2 separate regions of the Homo sapiens genome follow, and region 1 is linked to region 2. Evidence: fine-mapped expression QTL. A gene starts in region 2. The other region holds a variant in brackets. All regions are shown on one strand. Distances are from middle to middle. Region 1 has its middle 8.7 kb from the start of TCL1B. Region 2 holds the start of TCL6 (T cell leukemia/lymphoma 6).

Evidence for each region. PIP is the estimated chance that this variant, and not a neighbour inherited with it, causes the effect. A credible set is the group of variants that fine-mapping cannot tell apart.
Region 1: its variant is the best candidate, but not a certain one, in a credible set for the expression of TCL6 in whole blood (TOPMed, PIP 0.67).

The regions. Positions count from the first base shown.
Region 1 is chr14:95,675,070-95,680,447 of GRCh38, forward strand. No RefSeq gene overlaps it. Among named protein-coding and RNA genes, the nearest start is that of TCL1B, 8.7 kb to the right of the region's middle. The variant G/T (reference allele first, on the strand shown) is at 3,033.
Region 2 is chr14:95,649,091-95,654,468 of GRCh38, forward strand. TCL6 (T cell leukemia/lymphoma 6) reads left to right here and starts at 3,007. Exons shown (of 8, transcript NR_028288.2): 1 at 3,007-3,136; 2 at 3,287-3,399.

The DNA of each region.
Region 1 (5,378 bases), 26 kb after region 2:
GACCATGGGGCGCCTGCCATGGCATCAAGCTAATTTTTTATCTTTTGTAAAGATGGGATTTCGCCAAGTTGCCTAGGCCAATCTCAAACTCCTGGGCTCAAGCGATCCACCCACCTCAGCCTCCCAAAGTGCTGGGATTACAGGTGTGAGCCACCGTGCCCATCCTGATGGTTGCTTTCAGAGCCTTGATTCTTCATCTCTAAAACAAAGATAGGAATACTGCCTAGTTTCCATGAGGAGCTTGTAACACATGCGGGCCTCTCTCCCCTCACCCCAGTCTTTGGTTAGACACTTACTATTTGCAAAGACCCAATTTCTTCATCATAAGAAGGCTGCCACCACACTTGAGGGAGTGACCCATTTACAAACAATTGCTTCCTTCTGGGTCATTCTGATGGATTAAATGAAGAACCATTTAAAACCACAGCCCAAAGGGCCAGAGGGAGAGGCAGCAGAGGGAAGATGCAGGTGGATCTTCATGCACTGCATGAGGAAGCTTTGTACCATGGTCAGGAAAAGCTCCAGGCACACAAGGGCAGCCTCCATGGCCAATCAGAGTGCACCTCTCACCTCGGCAACTCTGCTAACCTAAATAGACCAGTCACACAGCAGAGCTGCAAAAGAAGACATGATAATTACAGAGACCCCAGGGGACCGTCTGTGCGGACTGATGCTTTGTTTCTCCTGACCCCTCAGACCTCTCTATTTCACTGCAAACTCTCAATACCCAGGGCCTTTGTTTTGCTGTGAACACTTTCATTCCTGAGTACATTTTCTATGAGGAGTTGGCGGAAGAGAGTCAGAATGAATTATATTTTCAGCACACCTCTGGGTTCATGTTGAACTCGGCTAGAACTGTTTTGACCCAGGAAACAATTTGACTAAAGGATATTTCAATCCAACAAATACTCTCTGGGCCCTTCCAATGTTTCTGGCACTGGTTTGATGCTGAGGACATAGAGATGAATAAGAAATGGTCTCTGTCCCCCAGCTGATAAATTATCATTGATGATCTACCGTGTGCCAGGGACTTTACAAATGTGATTACCATTTCTTACAACATAGTAAGGTAGATAGCATTTTTGTGTTACTGGTGAGGAGTAGGAAGTTCAAAAAGTTTATAAGGTCAAAGTCACACAACTAGTCAGATGTAGAACTAACCTTTGGATTTGGGACTGTTCACCATCAAATCCTATATGCTTTTGATACAGACAGGAGACCCAGAAATACTGGGTAGAAGAGGGTGGTTCCCTGGCAAAGGCCCTACCCTCAAACCTGGAAACCTGCAGCCCTAAATGGGAAGAGGCATTCCTGTTTTCATGCCCAAAAGTTGCCTTTTGGCCCGTCATGTCCCCTATCCTATACCTGTATAAACCCCAGACCCCAGGCTCCAGAAGCAGATGAGGAGACAAACAGAAGAGCAGAAGAATGGCAGAATGGCACAGCAGAGAGAAGAAAAGGAACATCTGAATGTTGAGAGGAATTTGGCTGGGGGCGGTTGGAGAGGAGATTAGCCACTGGACAGCCAAACTCCAGGGGAAGATCATCTTCCCACTCCATCCCCCTTCCAGCTCCCCATCCATCCTGCTGAGAGCCACCTCCACCACTCAGTGAAACCGCTGCATTCATCCTTCAAGTTTATGTGTGACCTGATTCTTCCTGGACATTGGACAAAGACCTAGGTCCAGTGAACTGTCTAACACTTAAGTCATCCACGGACAGCAAGGCTAACAGAACGCTGTAACATGTGCCCACTTGGACTCTGGGAGTTGCAGACACCCACCCATAGGTGCTGCCATGGGTCCGGAGCCCAAAAAGTGCTTGCCCTGGCTCCTGCACCTGCCCGTCTGCATGCTCCCCCTCCGGTAAGGGGTTTGAGGATGTGGCGGCTGAACATAAGAGCTATGCCCCTGTCACACATCATGGGACAGGGGTCAGGGAACTCTCCCATTTCACTTTCAAATATTCCAGGTCCCCTTTTTGTTCGGGAGCCAGAGTCTAATGGAGACAGAGATAGAAACCCTGAAATAGGATCCAGGCAATATAAACCTACACGCTGTAAGCCAAGTCAGAGTGAGGCTGATGTGATAACAAAAGTCTGAATACAAGGTGGGAGACAATTATTCTGACTGAAAGGGAGGCAAGAGTTCTGCCATAGGCTTGATGCTGTGTGCCCCTGGCTTCCTAACTCATTTGCAAATGGAAAATACTATTCCATTGTAGGAACCTTCTTTTTCCATGTGTCTGGGGAAGGAGAAAGAATGGCTGGGCTGAATGAATTTATCCCTTGGTCCTCTTCCAACAAAGCTCAGCTATGAAAGATAAATCCAGCTCTCCCCACCCCCTCTCAGTGGAGCTGGGGAGAAATCAAAAGCCCCTCTGCCAATAATGAGACCAAAGTTTGCAAGGGCAGGACGAGCCCGTGCTAACAGAGAAAGTGTTGTTTCCTCAATTTGGTTTTAGACTGTCTTGTCCTATGGGGGAGAAAAGATCTGCCCTTGGGAGAGGTGCCAACTTTATAGATCTATTAATAAAAGAACTGGCAGGCTTACAGTTCTTGCCAATGAGGAAACTTGAATGAGAGAAGCCAGGCTCAACCTTGGCCAACAGACTGGAGCCCATCACCCTAACTTCACCCCGCTTCTCCTTACCCAACCGTCAAAGGCTAGGCAGCACCCACCCAGCAGCTTCCACCTGGCTGAAGCCTGCACCTGCTTCAGACCAAGGGTTAGATGGAAATTTGGCATGGGAAGAGAGGGCTCACCTGTGGGCAGGATAGACTCTATCCAAGAAGGAGAACTGAAAAATGAAAACCTATGAGACAAGGGGTGATCCTGAAGGCAGGCAGGAGAAAGGGCTGGAGGGAGAGGCACTGGGGAATTTTTCCTGGTGAATACTGAAGTTACTAGATGTTTTGTCTTGCAAAACTCAAGGGAAAACTCTCAAACTCTAATGTTTGTCTATTCTGTGTCCAAACTGTCCTTTTGAAACGGACCCACCTTTCAGTAAAGAAACTTGCATTGGCCTGCCCA[G/T]CCTGGTGTGTTAGTTCTGTGGAAACTGACTGGCTAGGGTGGCCACGGGAGGAAGAGCCTGGTTCTCCCTCACCAGCTCCTTGTGAAGAAGGGACCTGGTCAATAAGGCAAACGACACCACTTGCCAACATTTGATATTGCCAAGTGCTTTTGTTTGGCACTACTATAGATTTTAAAAATGTATCTCACTTTTAAAATTTGCATTTTCTTGATTACTTGTGAGATTGAACATCTTCTCATACAGCAACTGGCCGTTTTCATCTCCTTTTCTGTGAATTCTAGCTGTTCCCTATTTTTCCAATGGGTTATTCGCTTTACTTACTGATCTGTAAGAGTTCATTACATATACTGGAAACTAATACTTTGCTATATATTGTTACTATCTTCTCTTACTCTGGTCACTTTTAAAACTTCATGTATTGTCATAAGAAGTCATACTTTTCGGTGGCTCATACCTGTAATCCCAGCACTTTGGGAGGCTGAGGCAGGCAGATTACCTGAGGTCGGGAGTTCGAGACCAACCTGACCAACACGGAGAAACCCTGTCTCTACTAAAAATACAAAATTAGCTGGTGTGGTGGCACGTGCCTGTATTCCCAGCTACTCAGGAGGCTGAGACAGGAGAATTGCTTGAACCCGGGAAGCGGAGGTTATGGTGAACCGAGATGGTGTCATTGCACTCCAGCCTGGGCAACAAGAACAAAACTCCATCTCAAAAAAAAAAAAAAAAAAAAAAAAAGTCATACTTTTGCTTTGTTTGTCATCTTTAAGAAGATCATCCCTATCGAAGGTCATAAACATATTCTTAATATTTTCACGTGTTTATTTTCCAAGGTTAGGTCTTAGAAAATTACAAAATAACCATTTGTAATTTCATGTTGTGAAAGGTGGAGGAAAGGAATTTCATCTTCTTGCCCCCAAACCTAAAACCCTTACTTGCATCTGAGCCGATTCTCCTTGTTCCTTTCAGTTACACTGGAAGAAGAGCCCCTCCTTCCTTCAAGCCAAGTCATCCCCTTGGGCTCTCACCACTTCAGTTTATACCTTGCCTGTAGTCCAGTCTCTCCAGCATCAATTCCATCAGCACAAAGACATAATTTAATTCCTTCTACCTTAAAAAAAAAAAAAAAAAAAAAACAGCTCTCCCTCTCTTAGGGTGAGATGAAGTGGTTGGCAACAGGCCAATGCTACTTTCAGAGGCGTTTGAATCAGAGTGACTCCATTTTGAATAGGGGTTGAGTAAAATAAGGCTGAGACCTACTGGGCTGCATTCCCATGAGCTTAGGCATTCTAAGTCACAGGATGAGACAGGAGGTCAGCACAAGATACACGTCACAAAGACCTTGCTGATAAAACAGATTGTGATAAGAAAAGCCAGTCAAAACCCACCAAAACCAAGATGGCGACAAAAGTGATCTCTGGTTGTCCTCACTGCTGATTATTCACTAATTATAAAATTAACATGATAAAAGACACTCCCACCAGCACCGTGACAGTTTACAAATGACATGGACACATCAGGAAGTTACCCTATATGTCTAAAAGGGGAGGAGCCCTCCATTCCAATTGTCCACCCCTTTCCTGGAAAACTCATGAATAATCCACCCCTTGTTTAGCATATAATCAAGAAATAACCATGAAAATAGCCAACCAGCAGCCCTCAGGGCTGCTTTGCCTATGGAGTAGCCATTCTATATTCCTTTACTTTCTTAATAAACTTGCTTTCACTTTAGCCTATGGACTTGCCCCAAATTCTTGCATGAGGTCCAAGAACCTTCTCTTGAGGTCTGGATTGGGACCCCTTTCTGGTAACACTACAGCCACGCTATGGAAAATCTAAATAAAAATAAAGATTGTATTTTCCAAACCATCGGGGAGCTATGGAAGCAACAAGGGCCAGAGGAAGTAAAATTCTGGAGAAGGGAGGACAGCTCAGAGGTGAGCATCTGCAGATGCCTTTCCCTTCCTGTCATTTGATAATCCTGGGCAAAGACTGAAATTGGTGCTGAGTCCAGTCGGGGGATGCTGTGGAGTCATCAAATTAGAGGCTTGGGGGGGCCTCAAACATCCAGCCAGCTTCCTCCTTCAGAGGTGCTGAACTGTGAAGCTGTGTGATGTGAGAGGCTGACAGGCTAAGCTGAAGACCTCAGGAAAGTAGAGTGGAATTTCCCGTGGTCTTTTTTTTTTTTTTTGAGGCAGTGTCTCTTTCTGTCACCCAGGCAGGAATGCAGTGGCAAAATCACAGCTCACTGCAGCCTGGACCTCTCAGGCTCAAGTGATCCTCCCACCTCAGCCCCGGAGTAGCTGGGACCACAGGCACGTGCCACCACTCCCGGGTACTTTTTG
Region 2 (5,378 bases):
AACTGCTGCTGTCTACCTTTGAGGGTGCTACCTCCAAACACAGTCACATTGGAAGTCAGGGTGTCAACCTAGGAATTGGGGGGAAACACAAACTTTCAGTCCTTAATGGGAATCCAAGTCAGGGGGTCATAAGTTGAGTGTCAGAAGAGAAAGATTAAGGAGGTATTATTAGTGCCGGTGGGCCAAACATGAAGTCTAGACACATTACTTAATCATTACATTCATTCATATAGTAAATATTCACCAGGTACATATATACTGAGTGCTGGGCTAGTTTCTGATGATGCAGAAATGAATGGCTTTATTGTCTTCGTCCTCAAGGCCCTCATGGTCTAGTGTAGAAGACAGACTGTAAATATTTACCATTCAGTACGATGTGTGCTGTTGCAGAGCGTGGCTTGGGCGCTATGGGGAACCAGAGGGCATGGAGCCTGGTTTGGAGGGGCAGGGAAGACTTTCTGAAATATGGGAGACAAGTCGAAGCCTATCTGACCAAGGCACCATGCAGGAGGAGGCGGGACATTCATGGCACAAGGCCAGCATGGCAGCAGTGTGAGGTGTGATGGGTGTGACCCATTCAAGGAACTGCCAGGTGCTCCATCTGAACCAACATGTCTGAGCTGGGGGCCTGGCATGAGGGTCATGCAGTCCTGTGGGTGCCAAAACAAGGTGGTTAATTTTATCCTAAAAACAATTGGCATCTACTGAGGAGTTTTATTTGGGAAGAGGTAAAATTAAATTAGAATGGGCAATGTATCTCTGGAAGCAGAGTGAAGGGGGAGCTGGAGGGGCAAGCCCAGAGGCAGGGCCAACACTGAGCTGCATGGTCCCTGCGATGGACAATCTGAGCCTGAGGTAAACGGGCTGATGTGGGACTGACGGATGCAAGGTGACAGGCTGAGGCTAGGGACCGTCATCACTCCCAGTCACACTGCAAGCTGCAGCAGGGTAGAGCCACATCTGATTTGTCCCCAGTGCCTGACCAGAGTTGGGGCTCAGTGTTTGTTGAGTGAATTCTTACTGCATGGCCAGGGTTTCTGGTCCTGGCAGCTGGGTGGATGGAGGGGTCATATTGAGAATCCTGGAGTGCAGTAGTAGCCAGGTGTGAAGAGTCAAGCAGGTCTGCAGCCTGAGGATCAGCATGGCAGCAGGAGGGTCCTCTGGGAGCTGGTCATGAATTTGATATGGACCATGGGATGGTGCCCACTTTTGTTTGTATCCTGGGGTACAGATCACAGCTCCATGAAGGTTTGAGCTAGGCAGGTGAGCCACGCTGGGAGCAAAGATGGTGGTGGCTAGGTACTTGCTTATCCCTATACCAATCAGCAGGATGTGGGTGGGGCCAGATAAGAGAATAAAAGCAGGCTGCCCGAGCCAGCATTGGCAACCCGCTCGGGTCCCCTTCCACACTGTGGAAGCTTTGTTCTTTTGCTCTTTGCAATAAATCTTGCTACTGCTCACTCTTTGGGTCCACGCTGCTTTTATGAGCTGTAACACTCACCGCGAAGATCTGCAGCTTCACTCCTGAGCCCAGCAAGACCACGAGCCCACCGGGAGGAATGAACAACTCCAGACACGCTACCTTAAGAGCTGTACCACTCACCGCGAAGGTCTGCAGCTTCACTCCTGAGCCAGCGAGACCACGAACCCACCAGAAGGAAGAAACTCCGAACACATCTGAACATCAGAAGGGACAGACTCCAGACACGCCACCTTAAGAGCTGTAACACTCACCGCGAGGGTCCACGGCTTCATTCTTGAAGTCAGTGAGACCAAGAACCCACCAATTCCGGACACAGTGCTGAGAATCATGCCTTGAAATCTAGCAGCTCTGTTAAAAACTGAGCAAGGTGTACTTCGGGGTTGTGTTGAGAAGGTTGGTGTTCAGCTAAATCAGGAGGGAAGGCCAAGGAAAATCAGGCTTGGCACCTGTCAACAGGTGGGACCCAATAGCCAAGCAAATGGTCCTGCAAACTGTACTACCCAACGTTCACAGCAAGGATTCCAACTTCTCACCAGGGCATGGAAAATTTGCCTTCATGTCAACCACCACCTTAGCCCTTGACTACCCAACGGACTCTTCCCAAGTCAACAGCCACTTCCTCCCTGGGGCTTAACAGGCATTCCTTGAAGCCTGCCCCGGGCAGTTAGTCCTTCCCTTTTGTGTGAACTCTCGGCTGTTTTCGTTGTCTGCACACAGAGCAGTGGTCTAGGGAGCGAAGGGTTTTGGAATGGACCTTTTCCTTTCTTAGCTTGCTGTAGGGATTGTGCTTCAGCTAAGTAAAGTGGAAAAACAGAAGTACAAAAGCAACAGCCCCAGATCTAAGGGCACCGTAGCTCTGGAATCTGGATTTTATTCCAGATTCAACCCTCAGCAGGGAGTTGAAGTGGTCAGCCCTGTGCTTTACAAGGCTGATTGGGCAGCACCCATAGTAGAATTGTCAATATAAAGTAATTGAAAGGATCAGAATCCAGGGTTTTCGTTGTTTTTAAGTTTTTAAGTTTTAAAAACAAAGTTGTTTTTGTTCGTTTTTAAGTTTACTTCTCTTTAATCGGTCTCACTTTATTGACCAGGCTGGTTTCGAACTCCTGGGCTTAAGTGATTTCTCCTGTCTCAGCTTCTCAAAGTGCTGGGATTACAGGCGTGAGCCGCTGCACCCAGCCCAGAATCCAGTTTTAAAGAGTTTATTCAAGCCAAAAGCTGGGAATGGCCATCTGAGAAACACAGACTCTAGGAAAATGGGGCCAGGGCCCTGAAGTTAAAAGTTAAAGTCTTGCTTACATAGGCAGAAAGCAAAGACATTTAGTAACCTTGTAGAACATTTTCTTGTATAACTTTTCTTGTTTTAACTTTCTTGTTTAACATTTTCTATGCAAGGCTGGTTTATGAGTTACAACCTATAATTAATTATAGGTTGTTCCCCTGCCTCCACCTTGTTTTCTTTTCTCTACAGCTTGTTTTCATTTCCTTTCCAATTTAAGAATGTGTTTAACATTCTATCCCAGACAATGTGATGGTCATGAAGTCTCTGTCAGAGAGGAAAGAGGGAGTTAATCTATAATGAAGATCAACAGTGAAGAGGAAAGGGGTCTTCCCTGGAACGCTTCAGTCATATACGACATTTTACACAACAATGTAAGTAAGGAAAAAGGCTAATCTATAATCAGAGAAACAAAGGTTGCAGCTGCCTGTTTACATGACTCAGGTCCCATGATCAAATTCCCTTAAGGCTCGAAATATTTTAAAGTTCCAACAGCTTAGATTTTGAATTGCTTATTTTCACAGAATGGACCTGTGTAAGGAGGTATGTGTGGGAGAAGATTCCAGAAGGTCTTGAGACACTCCAGATGAAGGTTGGTGTGGGGCTGTGCTGCTGGAGCACCAGAGAGTGAAAAGAGGCAAGCGATTTATAGTCTCATCAAATATCGACAAGTTTGGGTTTTCCTTTAGAGTTGGGCAGGGCCTGGCTGGACTTCTTTCTCCACCAGTCTCCGGGAGGCTCAAACAAGTTCTGATTTTCAGGTTCTGAAAAAGCTCTCAGGGAAAAAGCAGCTTCCATTCTGTTTTTTTTCCCTTTCTGCATTCTACTTCCCTTTTATTTTTGGCCTGGTAATTTCTGTCTTATCAGCTTTTAGATGTCCTTGAGATTTTTCTTTTCTTTCATTTTTTTTTTTTTGAGACAGGGTGTAAACCAAAAACTCTTTTATTCTTTTTTTTTTTCTTTTGAGACAGGATGTAAACCAAAAATAAAATTCTAAGCCCCGCCCTCCCTGCAACCATCTGAATGGACTTCCTCCTGGGCCAGGGTACTTTTAACCTGAAAGACTGGTTCAGGCCATGATGGAAAGTAGAGGTCAGACAGGACTCATTATACCTCTCTGATGAGAAGCATTTACAATCTATTTTCTCTGAAGCCTGCTACCCGGAGGCTTCATCTGCATGGTAAAACTTTGGTCTCCACAACCTCCTATCACAGCACAGACATTTTCTTTCTATTGAGCCCAGATCTTTAGATAAACTTAACCAATTGTCAACCAGTCAATTTTAAATCTACCTGTAACCTGGGAGCCCCCAACCTCCACCCAACAATTCAAGTTGTCCCACCTTTCTGGACAGAACCAATGTATTTCTTAAATGTATTTGATTGACATCTCATGTCTCCCTAAAATGTATAAAACCAAGCTGCACCCCGACCACCTTGGGCATAGTTCTCAGGATCTCCTGAGGGCTGTGTTACAGGCCATGGTCACTCATATTTGGCTCAGAATAAATCTCTTCAAATATTTTACAGAGCTTGACTGTTTTTATTTGTTAATGATCTCACTCTATCGTCCAGGCTGGAGTGCAGTGGTGCAATCATGGATTACTGCAGCCTCTACCTCCCTGGGCTCACATGATCCTCCCTTCTCAGCCTCCCAAGTAGCTGAGACTACACACATGCGCCACCATGCCTGGTTAATTTTAAAACTTTTTGTATAGATGGAGGTCTTACTGTGTTGCCCAGGCTGGTCTCAAACTTCTGGCCTCAAGTGATCCTACCACCACAGCCTCCCAAATTGGTGGGATTACAGGGATACGATTTTTATTTTATTTTTATAGAGATGGGGGTCACAGTATGATGCCCTGGCTGGTATTGAACTCCTGTGTTCAAGCAATACCCCTGCCTTAGCCTCTCAAAGTTCTGGGATTACAGGTGGGAGCCACCATGCCCAGCCTGGGAGAAGACTTTTAAAACATATTTTGTTTAGGCCAGTCATGGTGTTGAGGTCAGGAGTTCAAGACCAGGCTGGCCAACATGGCGAAACTGTGTCTCTACTAAAAAATATAAAAAACTTAGCCAGGCGTGGTGGCAGGTACCTGTAGTCCCAGCTACTTGGGAGGATGAGGAAGGAGAATTGCTTGAACCCAGGAGGTGGAGGTTGCAGTGAGTCAAGATCATGCCACTGCACTTCAGCCTGGGTGACAGAGTGAGACTCTGTCTCAAAAAAACAAAAGCAAATCATGTTTTGTTGAGTTTGTTTAGCTGTGTATTCACAAGTTGATTGGCATCTCTCAGCCCATCCCAACCCCACCCCGGAATGCTCTTCCCAGGCTTCCTAACAGGTATTCTCCTTTACCTGGATTGCATTTGTAGAAAACACTCTGCTTCAGTGGGAGGCAAGGAACAGAATATTTCTCTGTCTAGGGCATACTCTTCCATGTTATCTGATTCCAATTCTATGGGACCTATTTTACCATTCTGAAAGCTACAGATAACCGATAGAAATGAAAAATAATTCTTGTCTATGGATATGCAAATGCTTATATTTTGAAGAGAGACAACCCTTCCTCACTTCCCCCCAAATCCCCTAGTTTGCTTCCATTTTACACATTCATT